5 linked regions of the Homo sapiens genome follow. The protein of the gene in region 5 interacts with the protein of the main gene of each other region in a biochemical or structural test. Each region holds a gene or a part of one and is shown on either strand. Other genes may lie near its edges.

The links.
Region 1: the proteins of RGS12 (region 5) and PBK interact in a test that uses a peptide from one of them, tested with the Homo sapiens proteins (one large-scale study listed by IntAct).
Region 2: the proteins of RGS12 (region 5) and RASSF6 interact in a test that uses a peptide from one of them, tested with the Homo sapiens proteins (one large-scale study listed by IntAct).
Region 3: the proteins of RGS12 (region 5) and ITGB1 form a complex in vitro, tested with the Homo sapiens proteins (one study listed by IntAct).
Region 4: the proteins of RGS12 (region 5) and DOCK4 interact in a test that uses a peptide from one of them, tested with the Homo sapiens proteins (one large-scale study listed by IntAct).

What each region holds. Positions count from the first base shown.
Region 1 is NC_000008.11:27,823,466-27,828,368, reverse strand, and holds part of PBK (lymphokine-activated killer T-cell-originated protein kinase), read left to right. Parts: intron 1-170; coding exon 171-264; intron 265-4,903. UniProt on the Homo sapiens protein: Phosphorylates MAP kinase p38. Seems to be active only in mitosis. May also play a role in the activation of lymphoid cells.
Region 2 is NC_000004.12:73,581,833-73,586,735, forward strand, and holds part of RASSF6 (ras association domain-containing protein 6), read right to left. Parts: intron 3,533-4,903; coding exon 3,348-3,532; intron 3,002-3,347; coding exon of another isoform or gene 2,987-3,001; exon of another isoform or gene 774-2,986; intron 459-773; coding exon 357-458; intron 37-356; coding exon 1-36.
Region 3 is NC_000010.11:32,902,079-32,906,687, reverse strand, and holds part of ITGB1 (integrin beta-1 isoform 1A precursor), read left to right. Parts: intron 1-4,609.
Region 4 is NC_000007.14:111,726,647-111,731,549, forward strand, and holds part of DOCK4 (dedicator of cytokinesis protein 4), read right to left. Parts: intron 2,075-4,903; coding exon 1,628-2,074; 3' UTR 1-1,627. UniProt on the Homo sapiens protein: Functions as a guanine nucleotide exchange factor (GEF) that promotes the exchange of GDP to GTP, converting inactive GDP-bound small GTPases into their active GTP-bound form. Involved in regulation of adherens junction between cells.
Region 5 is NC_000004.12:3,435,557-3,439,155, reverse strand, and holds part of RGS12 (regulator of G-protein signaling 12), read right to left. Parts: intron 1-3,599. UniProt on the Homo sapiens protein: Regulates G protein-coupled receptor signaling cascades. Inhibits signal transduction by increasing the GTPase activity of G protein alpha subunits, thereby driving them into their inactive GDP-bound form.

The sequences.
Region 1 (4,903 bases), on a different chromosome or scaffold from region 5:
AAAAGTAGGCTTGGTCAAAAGATACCCATTTAAAATTAGGATATATGTTGTCAAATTGCTCTCCAAAAAGACTGTGCCAATTAATACTCTTGGCAGTAGTATATTGAGAATGTTAAGATGCTTTATTTTTATTTTTTATTAATTTTATTTTTTATTTCTCTGACATTTAGTATTATGTTCAACTCCAACTATAAATATCCCGGCCTCTCCGTTTATGCAGAAGCTTGGCTTTGGTACTGGGGTAAATGTGTACCTAATGAAAAGGTAAGTATAAGATTTCAGATTAACCTTTTTTCATGCAACTATAATTCTACTGTACTTGGAGACAAAGAAGTAGTCTGAAAATTCCAGTATTTAGATTCGGTTGTCTGCTCCTGATCCTGGCTGATGGCTGTATTCCGGTCCCTAGACCCTTTTGTAACTTTGCCTGTAGCTCTGCCTCTGCTTTTCTCCTAGCTTCCTCCTGATGGGTTATTAAAGGGGAAGTCATTTACTTTTTAATTTTTCCTTGGCTTCCATAAGAAGGGGAAGTGGCAGGGGAAAGGGTTCCTTTGTGGTAATTAAACCAGATTCTTCATGAGAAAACCTCAAAGAGGAAGCCAGTATTGGGTGATGTCAGTGACTGCTGTCTTTTCTGCAGCGTTGCCCTCCTAAGATATGCTCTTCTAAAAGAAGTAAAAGATTTTCATTTCTTATGGCATTGTTATTAAGAAGGGTAAATACATGATTTTAAAGTAGGAATATTGTGTTAAGAAAAATGAAATAATCGAACAAGTATGGTGCCAATATAGCTGTCAACAAAGTGTTTTTTTAAATTACTTTTTTATTATTCATATATTTTTTTGAAACAGAGTCTCACTCTGTTGACCAGGCTGGAGTGCAGTGGCACGACCTCCCAGGTTCAAGCGCTTCTCCTGCCTCAGCCTCCTGAATAGCTGGGATTACAGGCGTGTACCATCACACCCAGCTAATTTTTGTATTTTTAGTAGAGACAGGGTTTTGCCATGTTGGCCAGGCTGGTCTCGAACTCTGGCCTCAAGCGATCTGCCCGCCTTCGCCTCCCAAAATGCTGGGATTACAGGTGTAAGCCACCATGCCCAGCCCAAAATTACTTCTTTTAATCATTACTCTGTACCTAGTTTCATGTTTATTAAGTGGCAAACAACTACATCAATATATATTCCTTAATGCATTCTTGGAATCAGTCTAACTAGTCCAACCCTCCGTATCTTAGCTTCATCTAGGTTTACATTGTTTCCAGATAGAAATGCTTTCTTTAATAAGAGGCTAATTAAGAATAATTTAGTAATTATATACAATGGGTATTCCTGAAGCATTTTTGCAGTTTAAACATTTTTTTTGTATGTTTGTATGGTATTGTTTTCTAATTTGTTTTTTAGTGTTAACTCCTATTTTGAAAGAAAAAAATTCTCACAGGTTTATGGCTAGTTTCATTTTTTTCCCCCTTTTTAAAAAAAGTTTTTAAATGTAAAGTGTTTTTAACAAAGTTACACTGTATGTGGTTTAGTCAAAAAGCTTCAAATAGCTGATCTTTTTTTTTTTTTTTTTTTTTGAGACGGAGTCTCGCTCTGTCGCCCAGGCTGGAGTGCAGTGGCGCGATCTCGGCTCACTGCAAGCTCCGCCTCCCTGGTTCACGCCATTCTCCTGCCTCAGCCTCCCGAGTAGCTGGGACTACAGGCGCCCGCCACCACGCCCGGCTAATTTTTTGTATTTTTAGTAGAGACGGGGTTTCACCGTGTTAGCCAGGATGGTCTCGATCTCCTGACCTCGTGATCCGCCCGCCTCGGCCTCCCAAAGTGCTGGGCAAATAGCTGATCTTGAAGAACAGCAGTGCCTGCCTGACCCTACACTCCTCCTGATTCAGCCCTGTCAACCTGGGATTTCTTTTATCCATAACCTGCAAATTTCCTATGCTTCTCTGCTGAATTATATCCTGTGTTTTTAGGTATCTTGTGTCTTATTATTTCTTGATTTACATCCCGTTTTCATTTAGGACATCTGGTAGCTCCCCATGAATCGGTGCACAGAAGATATATTTTTTTGAGAATTTGCATTTCCAAAAATGTTTTCATTTTACTCATACTTGAATGGCCCTTTTTGGTTTTCTGGGTTACAATTCTCATTTGGAAACAATTTCCCTCCAGAATTTTGAGAATATCAGTCACTGACATTGTTTTTTTTCTAGCTTACACTGTTGCTGTTGAGAATTATGAAGCCTTTTTGACTGCTAATTCTTCATATGTAATCCGTTTTATGTTATCTGTCCCCCCCACTGTCCTGGATCCTGGTATGATCTTCTGTATGTCGGTAGCATTCTGAAATTTCACAATGACATGAGTGGATGTGGGGATCTTGGAATCTGAATAGTTCCTGTTCTTAAATTTCTGAGACATTATTTTAAAAATTACTTTGTTGATGATTTTCACCTCTTTTTCTCTGTTCTCCATCTGGAATCCAATTATTTGAATGTTGAACTTACTGATTTCTCATCTACCTCTTTTTTGCTTGGTTTTCTTATTCGCTATCTTTTTTCTGAGATTTCCCCAGCTTTATCTTTCAACAATTCTATTGAGTTTTTATCTTGTTTTTAATTAATTATCTTTTTAAAAATAGCATCTTTAGTCTCTTGGAGTGCTAGAAATGTTCGGTATCTAGGTGTTGATAACACAGGTATATGCACATGTAAAAACTCATTGAGCATTTAGTATGCATATGGTGATTAATTATTAACCTGCTTCTGTATTACAGGTTCTCAACTGACAGTAAACCTCAGGCTAAAGACTTGTTTTATACCTTCCAAAGCTAGTCTACCATCTTTAGAAGCTGGGGAAGGGGGGTGGGCAGCTGCCAGTTGGTACAGAATTAAGGAGGGTATCTACGAGTCCACCTGTTTTTTACCATTATTATTTAGAGACAGGGTCTCATTTTGTTGCCCAGGCTGGAGTGCAATGGTGCCATCATAACTCACTGCAGCCTCAAACTCCTTGGTTTGAGCAATCCTCCTGCCTCAGCCTCCCAAGTAGCTGGGACTACAGGCGTGGGCCACCACATGTGACTTTTAAAAGTTTTTTGTAGAGAAGGGGTCTCACTATATTGCCCAGGCTGGTCTCAAACTCCTGGTCTCAAGTCATCCTCCTGACTTGGCCTCCCAAAGTGTTGTGATTATAGTTGTGTGCTAACCCTTCCAGGCCTACGTGCTTTTTAAATAACTTGCAAGCAGTTCATTGGGGCTAAGTCAGTTACTTTCTTCTGCTTTCCAGCTTCTGAAATTTTGTTGCTGTTGTCTCTTCTGCTGTTATTTCCATTCTTGCTGGCTTGTATGTCTAAAAAATATCCATTTGCTATTATGTTAGTGGGCTTGGAAAGGATAAAAACAATGTGTATGTTTAAGCTACAATTTTAACCCAGAAGTCTATATTTTTTTTGTTAAATCAAGTTTGCATTTCTTGGTTAAATCCAACATAGTTTTGATGTAGTATTTTTAAATAAACTGATGGATTCAGTTTGCTAATATTAAAGTTTATTTCAATTTTTGCATCTGATATAAGTGAAGTTGGCTTGTGGTTTTCCTTTTTCTACTGTCCCTTTTGATTTTTTAAAATTAAAGTTATATGAGACTCATAGTACCTTTTCTGTTCCCTGGGGAAACAGTTTGTATAAGATTGAATGGTAAATTCTTTGAAAGCTTAGTAAACTCACCTGTAAAATCATCTGCACTTTGTATTTCTAGTAGGAACATTTTAAACTGGTGATTAAATTTCTTCATTCATCAGTTTTCTTAGATTTTTCTAAGTCTTTGACCATTTTGTCTTAAATGATTGCATAAAGATTTTATTTACTTACATATTTTTTCTCTTGTATCTGTAGTTTTGTTTCCATTTTTATTTGTGATATTGTCTTTATTTTTTCTTGTGTAATCTCATCAGAAATTTGCCTTTTTTCTATTAGTCTTTTTAATGAACCAGCTTTTTGCATGGTTGAGTATTCAGATTTCATAAATCTATTCTTATTCGATAGATTAGAATATGTTATGGAAAAGGTGAAGATTGACTTGTTTACTAAATTCTAAACTTTCAAGAGCTAAACTTTCAACCCTTGAAATTTGAAAAATATATTTTTCATAATAAAATGATATGCAGGTGCTCATCATTATCCTCAAATGCTGCTGTTATTTAAAACTGGAGGTTTAAGAATAGTTTAGATCAACTTACGGATGATAGATGTACATGAATTAAGAAATCTTGTGATCCTTTTAGTATAGGCTTTTTGATTAAACAAAAAAGGTTCTGCAGTCTTAGAGCTATACCTGTGAGGGAGTCCAAAGCTAAACAGATCTTTGATTCAATCTCTTGTTTTGTGTTCTTACCATTAAACTTTCTGTCTTAAACTTCTGAGGCTCTTTCACTAGGTTTTGTGCTGTTATGCTGCATATACTTAAGTATTTTGTGATTTGCTCTACTCATAAATATCTACCACCTCAGGTAAACCTTTCCCTGACTTTATTTTACCTATTTAGGCCTTAAAACATTTATACCTTAAATATTTGTAAAATGGCTGAATCTTCCTAGAAAATAGAAAGTTTAAAATTTTCTCATTTGTATGTTCATCATTATCTCCTTAAGCACATATCTTTGAGCATGTGGTAAAAGGTATAAGGTGAATTGGTCAGTGTAGGGGAGCAATAAGAACAGCATGCTGTTCTTTGGATGATGATATATGGGTAAAATGTTCTTGATTATCTCTTCTTTAAATTTCCTAATGTTTTTTTCTTCAGGATCCTATAACTCATCTCTGATACATATAATTAAATATTTAATAAGTTGTAGTCCAACATGCTCAAATGGAAAAATTGGAAAGTTACAATTTTCAGGTTTAAAGTTTG
Region 2 (4,903 bases), about 70 Mb from region 5:
AATGTGAAGAGCAAAATCCTGGGGACTATTTTCAATCTGTCAAGGGAAAAAATGAACAAATATAAATTCTTTGTTGTTATATGATGTTTTCTAACCTGACCAGACCCAAATCATGTCTGTTTTCTCTCTTCCATTTTTCACTTTTAGACATAAAATCTTCTCTGCTCTTATGGGAATTATATAATTTTTCAAGGGATAGTTACTAAAAGGTGTTATACAAAGGAAAGAATCTTTCAGTGCTCAACATCCAATTTAGATTTACACCTTTATAGATCTGTTTCAGAAGAGTGGATTTGTGTGTTTATAGTTGAATTATATATAATATATTTATAGCTCAGTTAAGTGATAAAGGTTACCTTAAATTTTTGGAGAAGTTGCTTTATTACTTCTTCAGTTCTCATGTTACTGTTTACTCTGACCTTAGTTTCTGATTCAAAGGCTGGAATGAAAATTGATGTCTAGAAAAAGAATTGTCACATAAGTCTTTAAAATTATATTATATTAAGGGTATTCAATATCTTGAACATAATCTTCTTATAGGGCAAAAAAAATCCAAGGTCATTAATTTAAAAAATTTGTTTTGTTTTTGTTTGTTTTTCTTTGTTGTTTTTGAATATTATGTGTTCTTTTAAGCAGCTTTATATTGTTTCTAGAGTAAATTAGGTAAAACACCATTTGAGGATGCTTATAACATTTTCACTGGACAATTACACCCCTCTTTAGTGCAGTTTAAGATTTCAAAATAAGTAAGAAAGAATGTCACCAGATGCATATTTAAAAACGGATAGAGATATTAAGTAAGGATTTATTTCCACATATTTTATTTATATGCACAATCTCCAAGTATTCCAAGGCTCTGTAGAAATGGGGTGGGTTCAGCAGATGTAGAGATGGGTGGGTTTTGGGGTGGCTCATTGGACTGTTAAAAAGATAAGTCCTATATTGAGAGATCAGTAAATTAACATCAAAGTATACAGACACAAACATTTATAACACCCACACATGTAACACGCACACACACACACACGGCATTTGTGTGAGTAAAAATGTGGATATGTAAATAAGTTTTCTGAGAAGATGTGTGGAGAGTGTCTAGGATAAACTTTTATAAGTATGAGAAAATTCAATATTTGTAGACATTTTAGAGCATTGATAAGTTATTCTGTGACATTTACGATTTCTATGGAGCCCTGAAAAACCACATGTTCATCCTGCGCTAAGGTGAATATGATATGTTGTACACGTGGTTTGATGTTGTTTATGTGAAGAAGCTTCATGCACTATGACAATAACATGGATTACCATTCAGGAGACCTAGATTTTAGTGCCCACTAAATGCCCACGAACTCCAACTTTGTCAACTCATTTAACATCTTTATTGACTCACTTAACATATATTTGATAAATGACTTCATTTATAAAATAAGATAGTAAGACTAATCTCTAAGAGCTCTTCTAAAATGTCAACATATAGTGAATTTGTTTTTCAGAGCAGTATTTAAATCTATAGTCTTTATATCAGTTGTGTTGGCCAAAACATATAATGAAACCTGCTATCATTTACTATCACATTGATAGAAATATACTACTGGTCAAGTTATATTCACCATAACTAATCTCCAGATATGACAATCTAAGCCTTTAATATGTGTGTTATTCATAGCCTAACAATATTGGCATTAACAAGGGGCTTCATAGTATAAAAACATATCTTACGACACACAGCAACTTAAGAAACATATCCACTAAAATTCCTAGATGTCCGTCATTGTATAATTGTTGATAGAATGCTTTGTTTTTTCTTTTTTGTTTGTATTGTTTTCTGCTAGTTATTAAATTGCAGTGAATGACATTTGTGTAAAATATCTATAGTCCCAGCTTGAGCTCATTCAATCAACAGCAACAACATAAGCTAATGTAGACCGAGTTCTTTTGTGCCAGGTACTATTCTTATGCTGAACTTACCTCATTTCATTCCATCCCATCAACAGCCTTGTAAAGTAAGAAGAATGAAACTTGCTCAGCAAGAATGTAAAACCAGGCTGTCAAGCTCCAGGGCCCAAGCATTTAACCACCATTCCGTGCTGCCAACCTAGTGTCAATTTCATTTCCAGCACAAGTGATCCAATCTGAAAGCCACTTGCTTGGAGCAATGTGGCTTTCCTTCTTCAACACAAATTACCCCACAAGATAATGACATACAACACAATTTCTGTGAAGAGGGAAACAGGACAATTGGTAGGTACCTCTCTGTGGGGGACTATCAATGCTACTTTATAGCTATGAGAATGATTCTGGAACCCTAAAATTCTGATATGAATAAATAATTGAGAAGAGAGATTTCTCCCCACCAGGCTCCAAAGACACACTATCGTTACCCCCCAAGGGTAGAAGAAGAAGAAATAAAGTAGAAATCCTTACAGGAAAAAGCCTACAAAGCAATGAGTTCCTATTTCTTATTAAAGGCCTCAGAAGATACCTGGCACAGTGTAAGTGCTAAGTATTTATGAGATGGAGCGATGAATGATTGCTAAAGTACATCACATGAAAAATATTTGAGTTCTGGAAAAAAATGATGATATATTTCCTACCTTCAGCAAAATGTAATGTCTTACAAGCACTATGGAAAGGCACATATAAATTTAACACATATTCAGTGAAAAAGCAGAATGTGAATTGTATCTAAACTACAACTACACTTATATAAAAACGGTATGTGTATAGGTAAAAGACCTGGAACATGGCAACATGAGAAGTTTGATTTATTGGAATAAATTGGCCTGTGGCTTTTTCCTTTTATTTAAATGTTCACGTTCAAATGTCCTTTGATCCAACCACTTTGTAGCACTTACATTATTCCAGTATTATTGTTGGTATGTTGGTTTCCCTGCTCAATCCCTGAGCTCCGTGCTGGCTGAGACATCGGCTGCCTCATCTGCATGTTTTTAATACTTGGCACAGTGATAGAGTTCACCCATCATGGTGGTTAAAAACTTGTGTTCTGGAGTCAGACAAAGCTGGGTTCAGGTTGAGAGTTACTACTTAAGAGTAGCATAATCTAAGACAAATTGCTTAATCTCCATAAGCCTCAATTAGCTTATATGTCAAGTAAAGAAAATAATGGTACCTATTTCATAGGATTGTTTTAGTGATTAATAAGATAATTCAGTAAAAATCTATTTAAAACACATTTACTTTAATATCTAGCACATAGAGAGTGCCCCCAAGATGTTAGACATGCTACTGTTATTATTATGACTTTAAATTGTGAATTGAATTGGGTGGTATTGTTAGTGAAACAGGGAACCTTATTTTATATTACATTAATGGAATTGTAACTCACTTACTTCATGGTTATAGAAGTGTCCATTAATAGAGGCTCTATTTTTCTGTCTTTCTTTTCTGTCCATCATCAGAGGCTTCATCCTTTTTCTCACCAGAGCTGCTTCACTCATGGTTCTATAGAGCACTGGGGAGTCTGGTTCATCCTTTGCATGTGGCTTCAGGGTGTTGCTGTGATAAGATAAATAGTCTGGGAAGAATAGATTATAAGCTCATATCATTCAGCTGCCTGTGTCCTAGCATCCTGAGTGGATTTGTGTATGCTTTCATTAATTTTAGGAATATTGCTATTTTCTGGCTGTGTAAAAGCATTATAGTCCACTGCTTAGCTGCATATTTACTTATTAAATGTTGCCTGAGACTGACTCAGCAAATTCTGCCAGTATCTCATATAAAATTCTTATGTCTCATTCTTATGTTTCATAAGAAATGATCACAATGATCATGTTTGGGGTTTGGGCATTCCTTTAATCTTAATTTATTGGGGAGTGCATTTTGTGGCATTTCAGAGTGTTAGAGCTGGAATAAACCTGATACTTTATCAGGTTTGATCTCTTACAGGTAAGAAAAAGTACAGTGAGTTGAAGTGGCTTTCCTATGGACATAGTACTCATAAATGATAGAATCAGGTCTGGATCCTTATTTTTTTATTTTTATTTTTATTTTATTATTATTATACTTTAAGTTTTAGGGTAATGTGCACAATGTGCAGGTTAGTTACATATGTATACATGTGCCATGCTGGTGTGCTGCACCCATTAACTCGTCATTTAGCATTAGGTATATCTCCTAATGCTATCCCTCCCCCCTCCCCCCACCCCATTATATGTTGGCCCAAGTTCTTTGGAGCTTTTCCTAAAAAATAAACACTGGGCCTTAGTTTTCCTATAAAACTACAGAAAGCTCTTTGAGAAGCTATTTATATGGTATGTGGAGCATTGAAAGATTTTGTTCCCATCTTTTATAAAAGCAAAAGGAATAGTATGCTTTGGACTAGTCCTACTATTTGTAATATATCACATTATGTTCTTTTTAGAACATTCCAGATGTATGATATGAATGACTTTTTCACTTAGTTGTCCACTATCCTATTATTTCTTCTCATTGAGTCATGTATATTTAACAATGATTCATAATTGATTAGTCAAAATTTGGTTACTGAATTATTACAATTTCTATAGCAGATTTTAGAGTATAAAATTATAGTGTAGCGTTGAACAACTCTAGTATCTATTGAGTAGGCAGAAGGTGTTTAAATGGAATTGAATTGAGCTACAATGTGTTACTAGCCTAAGATGCAGAAGATTCAAACCTGCCTTCTGCCCCCCTTTCTGCTTGTATACAATTGATAGTACCTTTTTCAATTTCCTCTCCTATGCATATTCATATGTAAGAATAAGACCATGTGGTGGCATTTGTGTTTTATTTTACTTTAGGATTTTAAAAAATTTTCTACTGTAATTAGAACATTATCAAATAGGCATGAGATATTTCTTCCTTCTCTAGCACTGCTGTTTAAATACAAATATATTTTTATGATGTCTTTGATGCCAAGATACTG
Region 3 (4,609 bases), on a different chromosome or scaffold from region 5:
AATCAGCCTGTCAGCTCTAATCCTCATAACAGTCCTGTGCCTAGAATGATATTATCCTATTATCTTTTGTTCTTTTTCTGTTTATTTATTTATTTATTTTGAGACAGTCTCTCTCTGTCGCCCAGCCTGGAGTGCAGTGGTGTGATATCAGCTCACTGCAACCTCTGACTTCCAGATTCCAGCAATTCTCCTGCCTCAGCCTCCCGAGTACCTGGGATTACAGGTGCCTGCCACCATGCTAGGCTAATTTTTTTGTTTTTAGTAGAGATGGGGTTTCACCACATTGGCTGGGCTGGCCTTGAACTCCTGACCTCCAGTGCTCTGCCCACCTCGGTCTCCCAAAGTGCTGGGATTACAGGCGTGAGCCACTGTGCCCCACCAGTATTATCCTTAAATAACAAATTTGTTATGAGTAAATTTTAGGGTTGGATAGTGAAAATTGATCACGAAATCCAAATTGCAAAATAGAAAAATATAACCTACTATGATATTTGTATGGTATGCAACTACAATATCATTATTGGTTCTCAAAAGATTTGAGATCAATTTCTTGAATATAACTTGAAATTTCATTAAAAGCCAGAAGACCATATATATGTATGTATATTATATATATATGTGTGTGTGTCTGTGTGTGTATGTGAGAATGATTCTAATTTTCAAATGTAAGTTTGTAACTGTTCATATCTGAATTTTCATGAAATGCTTCCAGCATATTCTAATAAAATCATGCAAGCCCCTAAAACTCTGATAACAAAGGTTAATTGTGATTAGAACTAAATTCTCCTGACTGGTGGTTGAGAACTCTTCTTCTCTTTCCCAACTGACTGACTGTAATAGGGCCTGGAAGATTTCTGCTTTTCTCACTGCCTACCTTATTGTGCAGATAAAGATGGTATTGGGAACACTTACATAAAAATCACTGTGTCTCAGGCATGATTCTGACCACTTAATCTGTGTTTAATCTTCATAGTGAAAGTTGTAGGAATGTTTTACATATGAGAAAACTGAGACACATAAGGGTTATGTAACTTGACCGAGTTCCCACGGCTGGTTAGTCAGAGAGCTGAGATTTGAACCCAGGCAGTTGGGCTCCAGAGTCCATGTTCTTGTCTATGACATTGTACTTGGTAGCAGTTATGTATCTTCAGAAGTCCCGTTACCTGGTTAGGAAGAGGTAGATCACTCTTTATAGAGATTTACAGCCCTTTTACAATTTGTTGTTACTCTGTCAGAGTTAACACTGCTGCTGTTGGCAAACATCATGTTAGGGAAATCACTTTAATACATGGAACCCAGTGCTGTTGTTGTGTTTTTTGACTATTGAGAGTGTGCTTACAAACTGATCATGAATAAGAGCCTACAGTACAGGAATGTTTAATAGTTACAAGTGATATAGGAAGTGCTGATAACATTAGAAATCATTAACTTGTCAGATTTTTATTTCTAAGTAGACCGTAAGATTTTTAAAGTTAAATTTGATGGCAGAAAATTATATTCAAATTCACATATGGGCAGGTTGGTACATATTTGTATTAGTCTGAGACAATATATTTTTCTCGTTCTCACTTAGTACTTTACAGAAAGTCATTTTTAGAGGAAAACTGATTAGCCAATGACATTGCCAGGCTTTTTTTTTTTTTTAATACATATTTTTTTCTTTAGTTGTAGGTCAAAAATAGTCAAATGTTGACAATTTCATGTGGTTATTTCTCACAAGAGAAAAAATTTCTGTCCTACTGAGGTGAAATTTTCACCCTTGCTGTACCTTTCATTGTATTTTGAAGGAAATTATCAGTAAATGTTATTTAAACTTAATGTTTATAATGTATATATGGCTAAAATGTTGCTAAAATAAGCATTTTATGTAATTCAGGAAGCAGAAGTTTGGTAAAAATTTCTCTATGCATTATTGAAGTCCAGGCAATTTGATGGCTACAGATTATTTTAAGAGATGTTTTTCTCAAGAAAAAGTAGAAATTAACAATTGAAATAAATGAATGAGCATCAAGAAATTACATCATGGATTGTAAGAAACTTTTCTGATATGGACCAAGGTTTGCCAGTCAATTATGTCATTGAAATTTTTGAAATAATGGGCAGGCGCTAATTACTTTGGCAGAAGACTACCATGTAGGAACATTAAGAAGAACATGTCACATTATCAGCTTCTAACTGTTGGAGTGGGTTAAAAAAATGGTCTGTCCTCATCTGCTGCTATGCGGGTTTAAATGTGGCTCCCAAATCTCCCACACTTCTGCATTATGTATTTAATACATTGTAGAGATGGTTCTGCAGCTACCACTGTCAGCCATTCCAGAGTGAGCACAAAGATGACATTTTACTGAGCTTGAGGGCTTCCTTTCATAATATAACCCTGTTCTCTTGCTGCGGGTTTTTTTGGGGTGGGGTGGTGTTGCACTCTGAATGATGGAAACTAATTTGAATTATTTTAGTTTACCTTCATTTAAAATGATGCCTAATACAGATAGTGAGCTTAATTTTACCTCTAACCTTGCATGTTAAACTTTTGTTTGAGTGGACTTTGAAATAATAAATACAAATGTTTGTGTATACGACAAGACAGATTTTTCTCCAAAGGTAAGTTCTTCCATATAAATTACACTTTGGACTCATCTATATAGGGCTTTTTTTCTTTATTTTTTGTTTTCTTTTTTTTTTTTGTCCTTCCCTTATAATTCTTGAGTATTAAATACTAGATTTAGCAAATATATTGTATTAAAGAAATTTAATTAGATGCTAATTTATTTTCCCAACATATTTGAAGGAATGTGTAGCACTTAGCCTCAAATCAGATAGGATATAAATGTGGAGTGTAATTTATTTGCACTCTGGCTTTTTAAGATAGTAGTTGCCAAAATCCAGTTTCCTGACCCCCATTTTGAAATGTCTGCTCTCACAGCTGTATAATGTATTAGCTTCAGTTGGGACTAGAGCTGAGAGTTTGATGTACACAGTTTTGTCATCCACATTATATGCTGTTTGTCTCTGAGGGATCCTGAGTTTGTCCATGTTTCTGAAACAACCAGTCAAGGTGTATTTTGAGGAGAGGGGAGTGAGGGCTGAGGTATGTTGTCTGGTTCTGATTGGTATCACATGAGCTGCTGAGCTGAAATCACAGTGGTTTATTTGGTGTCTTGCAGGACCCAGCCTTTATATGTTAATGTTTTTCCCTCATTGGTATGGGATACCTACAGGATGAAGTTTCAGACTTCATAGCAAGGCCTCTAGGACTGTTCTTCCTTTGTCTCCTCACCTCCAATCATATGCCCCCTTAATTCTTTTTTTTCCTCTTTTTTTTTTTTTTTTTTTTTTGAGATGGAGTCTTGCTCTTTCGCCCAGTCTGGAGTGCAGTGGTGCGATCTCAGCTCACTACAATCTCCGCTTCCCGGGTTCAAGTGATTCCCCTATCCCAGCTTCATGAGTAGCTGGGATTACAGGCACCCGCCACCACACCCAGCTAATTTTTGTATTTTTAGTAGAGACGGGGTTTTACCGTGTTGGCCAGGCTGATCTCAAACTCCTCACCAAAAGTGATCCACCCACCTCGGCCTCTCAAAGTTCTGGGATTACAGGCATGAGCCACCGCGCCTGCCCTCCCCTAACTCTAGAAACTTCTGAACTGTATGTATTTCTACTTAAATGTCCCATTCTTTTCCCTACACCTTGACTTTGCATAGATTGCTATTTACCAACCAATAATTTTTCTAGTCAATTTCACAATGAAAATCTCCTTAATCTTCTTAAAGTTAATAACTTTTTTCTTATACTATTCCCAGATTATGTTCATAACTCTATTGTAAACTTCATCAGAGTGCCTTATTTTCATGTCTCTCACCCACCAAACTATACCTTCCTTGAGGGCAGAAATTGTGCCACCAAAAGGCAGATCCAAATACAGTCTGCAATGAAGTGTGAATAAAATTTAAAAACAAAAATTACTTTTAGATCAAAAAATGTTTTAGATGCTTTCTATAAATATTTTTTTAAAAATCACCTGCAGTTGGTTCTATAGTGAGATATAAAACTGAACAACATTCCAAAATCTTAATTTTTTCTTAAAAAAAATTTCCCTGGTAGTTAACAAGTATTTTTTATTTGTACTCACTGTAATTTTCTCTGATTAAGTGTTATTTGGTCACACTTCTCACTTGGCTTTCAAGCCTGCTTTCAATTTATAAGAACAGGAGAAAAAAGAATGCTATAGCAAGTATTTAAATGTAGCAGTTATAGTATAAGAGAATTTTTAAGGAAAAGGGTGATACAGTGATATGTTTTTTTCTGCTTAAAACATCACTGTCAGTATATTTTTGGATCTTGAAAGATCTCTTGTGTTTATGGCTTGGGGCCTGCTTGCTAGGCTTGACTTCAGTACTGTTTACTAAATTATAGCACTGCAATAAGACATTTCACCAATATGATATTGAAGCATAACAAGTTATTTCATAAGGAATGGTAATTATCTAACATTCTAAGCAAATTTGGCAGTGTGACTTGGTGGGGCGCAGTGCTGTCCCTGACACAATGACAGCCTTACTCTCTAAATTAGTAACTTCCGTAGGAGACCCCAGAAGCACACCTCCCTCCC
Region 4 (4,903 bases), on a different chromosome or scaffold from region 5:
TTGTAAAGTCAATATGGCAGAATTGTTAAAAGCACATATGTACAAATATTCTTTTTCCATACGTAAAGTATTTGGCATAATTATAACAATCATACTGCATCAACAACTGTTTGCGTTTATTTTTACTTTTTTTTACACATAATGGTATCTCTTATTAAAATTAACCAGTTATATACAAAAATACTTGAACATTTATTATAGAAAACCTCTATAACCAGCCTCAACAGCATATACCTGCTGAATGGTTTCATTAAGAGAATATAAAAAAGTGGTCACTGCCTTCCAGGTAAGCTACCAACAAAACAAACATGGTTAAACTAAAATGAGCTTCCCAACAAAAGAGGGAAAATATTTAACAGTATGATTTAAAATACAGTTCATATCTATTGTCAATTGAGTGTTATAAACAGTCAGTAAAAGAAAAAACAAAGATATAAAATACATTACTACATACAAGGTGCTTTTTTCACACTTCTACAACTGGCATTAGCATCCCTATCTAGACCTAAGATGCTATGTTGCAATATTCAAGCTAGAGAAGTCTACAGCAATCCTCCTTCAAGAGAAAGACGACAGGTCAGCTAAGACAAACTCCACTGGTAAAAGTGGAGAGTCGTGAGGAATTTTTTATTTTGTGCAGGACTGAAAGTTAATGCCCTTGCCTTTTATAAGTCCTTTTGCCATTTAATCGTGCTAATACATTTTCACTAAGTTTTTTTTTTCTTCACTTAAGCTATTAATTTAATACTGTCTGTATTGATTCCTGAATTCTTGCTAATGGGGCACAGTCATTTGTGCCTCATTAATACTTCAGCATTTGCTCTTGTTCAATGACAAATTTTATATAGGAAACTATCAAGAAAGGAAGCGCAAAATTCAAGTAAACATTTCTTCTGGAGCCTCTTGCTTAATCTAGCTGATTGGAACTCTGAAGCAAATTGCACCTTGAAAAGAAATACAGTAGATACCACGGTGTCAGGGTAGTAAGGGATTTAGCTACCAATTCACAAAATAGAATTTTACGAATGTAGACAGCAGTCAAACAGCAAAAGCAACCTTAAAGAAGTATTTTGTTTCAAGAACAAAACAATTTCCAGTCCCAAGCTTTGCAACCCCTTAAGTATACTGTCTTGCTCGCCTGCTTGAACTTTAATTCTGATGATCTGCACTGATAAACCTTGCCTTATTTACAGAAGTCTTCTAAAATAAGGACCACTGTGTTAGGATGTGCACTGACTTAATAAGCTTTCTCCAAGTATCAAGTATTCAGTAAAAACGATACAACATTGTCACACATTGTATCGTTTGACAATATCGTATTGGTTTTAAGATTAAACTATATAAAAAAAAGTGAACATAAAAAGGTACAAAAGGAGTCTTTATCACTATTTACCACTTCCAAATGAGAAACGTTTTAATGAAATTCAGCCATACTTCATTTAACATCTGGCGTTTTAGATCAGCAACTTTTAATATTGTGCAACATGATATTTAATAAGCAAGTTTTAATTCCATTCATCGAAGGAGCTGAGTAAGTTATTAAAGTGCCTACACTAAATGTCTTCTCATCATACTTCTTATTTTGTAAACGGGCAAAGAATGCATCGCAGGTACATAGAAAAGTGACTTATAACTGAGAGACCTTGCGGGGCAGGGGCCTGGGCCGCGGGCCGGGGTCAGTCCTCCGGGCCCCATTCTCCAGGTGGCTGGATCGCGCTGCCAGAGGCTTGGGGGGCAGCGCGGGCGGCTCCGACGTGACGGGGATGGAGAGGCTGTGAGGTAGCGGGACGGGGCGCCGCAGAGTCCGCTCGTAGACGCTGTACGGGGGCGGAGTCTTGCTCTCCTTGCGCACTGGCTCCTCCCCGCCGTAGCTCGGCACGGGCACCGGCACTGGCACCGGCAGGGGGGCCGACTGTTCATTCACCTGATTTTCAAAGCCTGAGGTTTCCGACGTGCTGCACCGGCTGAGAGAAGAAATCCCACTGCTGTAGCTGCCCGACAAGACAGGGGAGTTGGAGATGAGTCCTGGCGAGTGGTACTCCACTGGAGAGGGGGTGAAAGACTGCACAGAGCCCTGCTCCGGGGAGAAGGAAACGAGAGGGAGACACAGCATTGAGTCGTGAACGCAGATGCGCTGAAATGTACGCCCCGACGCGGAGGCCCCGGCCCCCAGCACCCCCAAAGCCGGCTGCAGCAGGAGATGCAGCCTTTAAGGAGGTGATTAAGGTAAAAGGCCATTATGGTGGATCCTAATCCAAGCTGACTGGTGTCCTTATAAGAGACATTTGGACACACAGGGAGACGTCAGGAATGCGACACACACAGACCTTGCAGGAAGGGCGGTCTGCAAGCCCAGGAGGGAGGCCTCGGGGAAACCAAGGCTGCCACGCATTGATCCTGGACTTCTACCTGCCAGAATTGAGAAAATACATTCCCAGTGTCTAAGCCACCCAGTTTGTGGTATTTTGTGAGGGAAGCCCGAGCAGACGAATACACTCACACTCAAATTTGAGTGTTGTCCTTTGTAGCACTGAAAATGCACACCAGACGTTTATCTGCGAGGGCCACCAGTCCTCGAGTTCAGTTCACCGCCCAGTTTACTCCTTATCATTTTCAGATAGAGGAGAAAGGAGCTGGGCATGGTGGCTCACGCCTGTAATCCCAATACTTTAGAAGGCCGATGCAGGGATCACTTGAGGCCAGGAGCTTGAGACCAGCCTGGGCAACATGGCAAAACCCCATTTCTACTAAAAATCCAAAGGGTTAGCTGGGCGTGGTGGCTCATGCCTGTAATCCCAGTTCCTCTGGGAGGATCACCTGAACCTTGGGAGGTTGAGACTGCAGTGAGCCGTGGAGCCACCAGTGCACTCCAGCCTGGGCAACACAATGAGACCCTGTCTCAAAAAATAAATAAAGGTATCCACCAAGATAATCTGGAGGCACACATTAGTCCTATAGTTTGGAAGAGAGGGAACTGGCCAAAAACCCCAAAAACCTAAAAACGCCATAAAACCTTTGGGGGCGCTATTCACTTTCCCAGCTCAGCAGGGCATGCTGCAGGCCAGGAGCCAGGGCCGCTGAGCACACTCAGCTCAGAAGACCCAGAGAGCTCAGGAGGAGGAGCAGAGGCACCCGAGGTTCTGCACCTGATTTCTCCAGCCATCACTCCAGACTCCAGACTCCTGAGCTGAACTGGCGAACTGGCAGCCCTCGGGGCTGTAGCCTGTGATGTGAGCTGTTTCCTCAGCAGTTTTTTAAAAACCTAATTTAGTTAATTTTTAACATTTCAAATTTCACATGAAACTCCAGAATTCTGGCAGTTCATAAAGAACTAGGAGTTCTGGCCACAATGGCACACATTCTCTTAATAGAGATAATCTTTAAAAGCTGAGAAGGGCTGTCCCTTTTCACTTTGCCAGTCCCCACTATGCCACGTGGGGACTACACCCGGCCTCCTTCATTTGTGTCAGCTGTCTGGCCCCATTTGGCATCTGAGTTTGTTACTTTCCCAACTAGTATCCCAAGGAAAACGAGTCCTAAGATAGATGCTCTGTGAAAAGAGGGTTCCGCTGGGAAATGCTGCACACTGTATACTCCTTGTGTATATTCAAAACATATTCGCATTTTCAAGGCTTAGAATAAAGGAATACAAATAATTTTGTTCAGTCCAGTGTTTTCCAAACTTACTTGACTATAGACCTTTTCTCCCCCGCTTATTACATAATGTCCTGGAAAACTAGTGTTCTATGGTATACACTTTGAGAAATGCTATCTTCTTAAGCTAACTTGACTTTGGTTTCTCTTTGTAAACAAAATAACGCTGGTAGATACACATCCTGTCATTTAGTAGGAGCCTAACATTAAGGCCAATTAAGAGTTCCCAATTCACTGCTACCTCTGTCAAAAGTTAGACCTGAAATTCAAAATATGGCAGGTCAGCTCAGTCTTCGCTGTAGGGTTAGACCCACAGTTTGATGGCTGGCTGGGGTAAAAAAAAAACCCAAAACCCCACTAAACTCTTATCAGTTAAGGCAGCACACTGCAAGGCTAGTAACATGGTAGCAGTGTGCCCCCTAATGTAACCCAGGAGGTATAACACAAATGTTCGATCTATGTTCTCTTCCTTCAAACCCTACATATAAAGACATGGCTTCGAACTGCATATGGCCAGTAAAAATGTACACAGGTCTGCTGAGAGACAGTATATACCAGCTTGCTAAGACTATTTTATAGCTATTCAAACATTTTTAGCTCTTGGGTTCTTTTTAATGTTTAAGAATTAATCTCTTAAGACTTATTTTCTTACTACCCAACAAAATTTAAGTTGAAAAATACAGATGATAATTCCATAGCAACGTGTGGGAGCTCTGTGTGAGTAAGGGCAAATGTAAAAGTGCGGAAAAGCCATGTTGCTTTCCTTTCTATCACATCGAGGTGACAGGCTATGACTTCCAGAGTGAATGCTGTCACAGGTACTTCATAATAACAGCTGCATTACAGAATGAGAACAAAACGAGCAAATCACTTGCACTTACCCGCGAATTTCTACGTCAGAAATTCTGGCAATGCAAGGGAATCACACTTCTTTCAATTTTCTCCATTTTGCGGGGGGAGGCGGGTTGTTTTCCCGTTTCTCAATTTCTATCAGCAACTATCGTTAGCACCACAGATGCACTGGATCGCAACCTGCCCCTATGTGTTTGTAGAGGCTAATTTGTCTTTTGCACATTAGCTAGAACTAGCTCATCACACAAAGGACATGGAGCGTGTAAATCCTAAGTCACTCAGGTACAAAATCATTCTTTCGACACACTTCATATTTGCCTCTGGTGCAGCAGTTCTGAACACCAATCTCTCACGTACTGACAATCCTTGAAGCCGGTCTGATTCAATTTGGATAAGA
Region 5 (3,599 bases):
CCCCCGGCAGAGCCCCCGCCCCAACTGCCCCCCTAATTCCTCCTGGGGGCGTCCTCAGGGGCCCCCCCAGGCCCAGGGCCCATCCTCAAGGGCCACCCCCAGGGGGCTGAGCACTAGGGTTCAGTTCCAGATAGGCTGGACCCTCTTGGCCTGGTGGAACGGGCCCTGAGCCCTGTGTCTGCTGCCCCATCCCACCCTGCCAGGCTGGCCACCTGCTCGCCCACCTGCCTCGCTGCCTCAGCACCGTCTTCACCGTACACACCCTGCTCTGGGCCTCCCGGTCGTGTCCCCTCCCCCTCCATCCCTGGCCCCCCTACTGAGGCCCCTCTTTCCGGCTGGTCAGTGACTCTTGCCCCACTTCTGGCTCCAATGCCCACTCCAGCCCCAGGAGATCCCGGCTGCCTGAACCGGCCTTGGAAGCTTCTAGACCCAACATGGGCAGGCCATCTCCTTGCCAGCACCCCCGGGAGGCCTCCCTACCCAGGGCGTCACTGCCCTGCCACATCTGGTGACCTCCACGTGGACCCCTGGAAGACACAGTTGTGTCTATGCCAGGGTGGAGTCCCCAGGGGCCAACGAAGGCTGGGGCCAAGGAAAGTGAACGGTGCACGCAGAATGGCTGGGTTCATGTGCCGCCCGGAGCTCCATGGCAGGACCCCAGGGCCTGGGAAGGGGCAGTGAAGCCCCCGTGCTGGGAGAGCCCAGCCCTTCCCGCCCACTGACCCCACCCCCCCATCTGTACGGTGGGGGTGACGTTGCCGACCCGCCCAGTGACCCCACCCCCCCATCTGTGCGGTGGGGGTGACGTTGCCGACCCAGAGGAGCAGGCTTCGGGGGCAGGTTCCTGCGTACCTAGCGTGTCTCCTAGGCAGGGGTCCAGGAGCTCCCTTCCTCAGTGAGCCTGGGGCTGAGGCCCTGAGACAGTCATGTCCATGCCAGGGTGGAGGCCTTGAGGCGCCTATGGGGTGGCAGGAGCCCCAGGCCTGGGCCCACAGCAGACAGGAGGCAGGAAGAGCCAGCCCCCGGCACATGAGAACCAGGGACAGGGGGTCCCTGCTACCAACTGCTGCCCTCCACAGGTGAATCGAAGGCCTGGGAAGGTGAAGACCCTCCTCGATCTACAGTTCTGAGGTCCCTGAAATGGCCGCAGGGTCCTTGCTGCCCCAGCGGCTCCGTGGCCACCAAGGTCCCCAATCCCAGCGTGCCCCTCCTCACCCTCAGTCCAAGCTTCCGGAAGCAGCCTCCATGAGGCATCTGTGAACAAGTCCGGGCTGCGGGCGGAAGGTGTGACTCCCCTCTTGAGCGTGCCCAGCCCGTTCTCTTGAACAGGTCCCAGCAGTGGCCCCAGAGGCCCTCATCCTGGCCTCGACGCAGCAGCCCAGCCAGCATGTGGGAGCTGTGTGGGGCCTGTGTGTCTTACTCAGCCAGGCCCGGTGGAGATGCCATCTGGAGGCCCAGGGGTCCATGTGGAGCAGCTGAGACTAGAAACTTCTCCCAGTCAGGCCTCTGCTCATTCAACAAGTGTCCTACTAGGTTCTGCCAGGGCTAGGAGCTAGCCCTGCCCCCAGGGGACAAGGGGACAGTTCTGCCCATCTCCTTCTTGTCACCAGGTCCGCATGGCTCCAGATGCCAGGCTGCAGGGCTGGGAGATATCGTGTGGGGAGAGGCAGGGGTTTGCCCCCTCTCGCCGGTCAATACCGTGGGCATTTGGGCATTTGCCTGGAGTGTTCATAGGGCTCTGAAGGGGCCTGCAACACCACACATGTCCAGAAGCCCGGCTCTACCCCGCCAGCCCCACATGGACAGATGGGAGGACAGGCCCCTGAGGGCCCCAGGAAGCTAGTGTGCTCAGGATGGAGAAACACTTGTTTCTGGAGACAGGACAGCTCTGTATGGACCAAGGATGTCCACATCACAAGGAGGGGGCCACAGCCAGGCCCTTCCTGCCTACGGGAGCCAGCCTCGCCCTCCTGTGCAGGGCAGCCAGCCCCAGGCCTGTGACTCAGCTGCCTGGCCCCGCCCTGAGCAGCACGCTGCCTCACCACCTACATGCCAGGGCCTGCCCGGGGAGCACCTTCTTGCCCAGCATTTCCCTGGCAGGGATGGCAACACAGAGGACCCAGCAGAGCCTGCACCACCTCCAGAGGGGCCTGGCCTCCTGGTCTCACTCCTGGTGCCACATCTCCAAACATCCAGACCTGAGGCCACACTGGGATCTTGTTCCCTGCCGCTTGGGCCACCTGTGAACCTCTCCCCGGCGCCCCACGGCTCCCTGCCCTCGGCTGGCTGGTCCTGCCGGCTCCGACTGTGCTGTCCAGCCTTCCCAGGAGGGGGTCCTGCTGGAGGCCCCACAAGATGCAGCAGGAAGGCCCCTCTTTCCACATGCGCAGGCCCCTCACCGGCTGCCGGTCGCCCCCAGGCCTCCCAGACACTTGTCCATGAATGTCTCTGTGCCAGCCACTGCCAGCTGCTCTGGCCTAGGCCTGGGGCAGGACCCCGCCCCACCCTGGTCCTCAAAGCTGAGTCAGGAACCCTGGCAGGCACAGCGGGAGCAGGGGCTGCACTGGCCTGGCCGGGGCAGGGGCATGGCCTGAACTCTCCCAGGCTCTCCTTCGAGACCCAGGCCTGGCACCTCTCCCACTGCCCGCCCTTCCTGCCCCCCGAGGGACCCCGTCCCCCAGGCACTTTGCTCAGCCTCTGCCTCCATGCTCCACATCATCTGTGCTGCCAAGCGCAGCCACCTCCTCTGTGAAGCCTCCCCAGCGCCCCTTGGAAGCTCGCAGGGCACAAGGACACCCAGGCAAGGCTGAGCCGGCTCACACTGAGAACACGGCAGGAAGGGGGGAGCGAGGGGAGCCAGAGGCGGGGACCCTACAATCCACTGTGGCTCCCAAGGCCCCTTCCCTTCCCAGCCTTCCCACCACAGCGCACCCCACGGGCTCCTGCTAAGGCCTGTGCACTCCTGCTGATGGGCCCCCATGGGAACGAGAGCACCCCCAGAACCTTAGTTCCAGAGTGTGACCCCCCCAAGGTCCCCCTGTCCGTGTGGGTCCCCAGCCAGGATCATGACTGTGTGTGATGGGCTGGGGCTGGGATAGAGCTCCTCAAATATTTGCTGGGCATTGGCGAGGGAGTGGACAGCGCCCAGCAGGGTGCACAGTGTGGTGAGTGGGGAATAGGGGAGTGGGGAATAGGGGAGTGGGGGTGACTGAGGGCACAGGAGTGCATGTGGCAGACCCCAGGGAGGGGCTTCAAGCCGGAGCTCCAGCAGTGCGGGCTGAGATGGGCACAGGTGGCCAGTCCTGGAGGGAACATGGGGGTAGGCCAGGTCACAGTCACTTGCAGGCCTGAGACTTCCACTCTGCAAGACCTGGCTGGAACTTCAGGTGGAAGGCAGACACTTCAGGGGAGGAGGGGGAGCAACCTAGGGTGGCTTCTGGTGGGATCCGGGAGGACCACGTGTCACAACCAGGCTGGGGGCTGTGGAGGAGGGCCGAGGCCAGCTGGTCAGTTCAGGAATCCCCTGGGGAGCCACGGAGCTGGGCAGGAGCCAGGAGATGCTGGGGGGAGACAGGGCTCTGGGGAGACGGGGCTCTGGA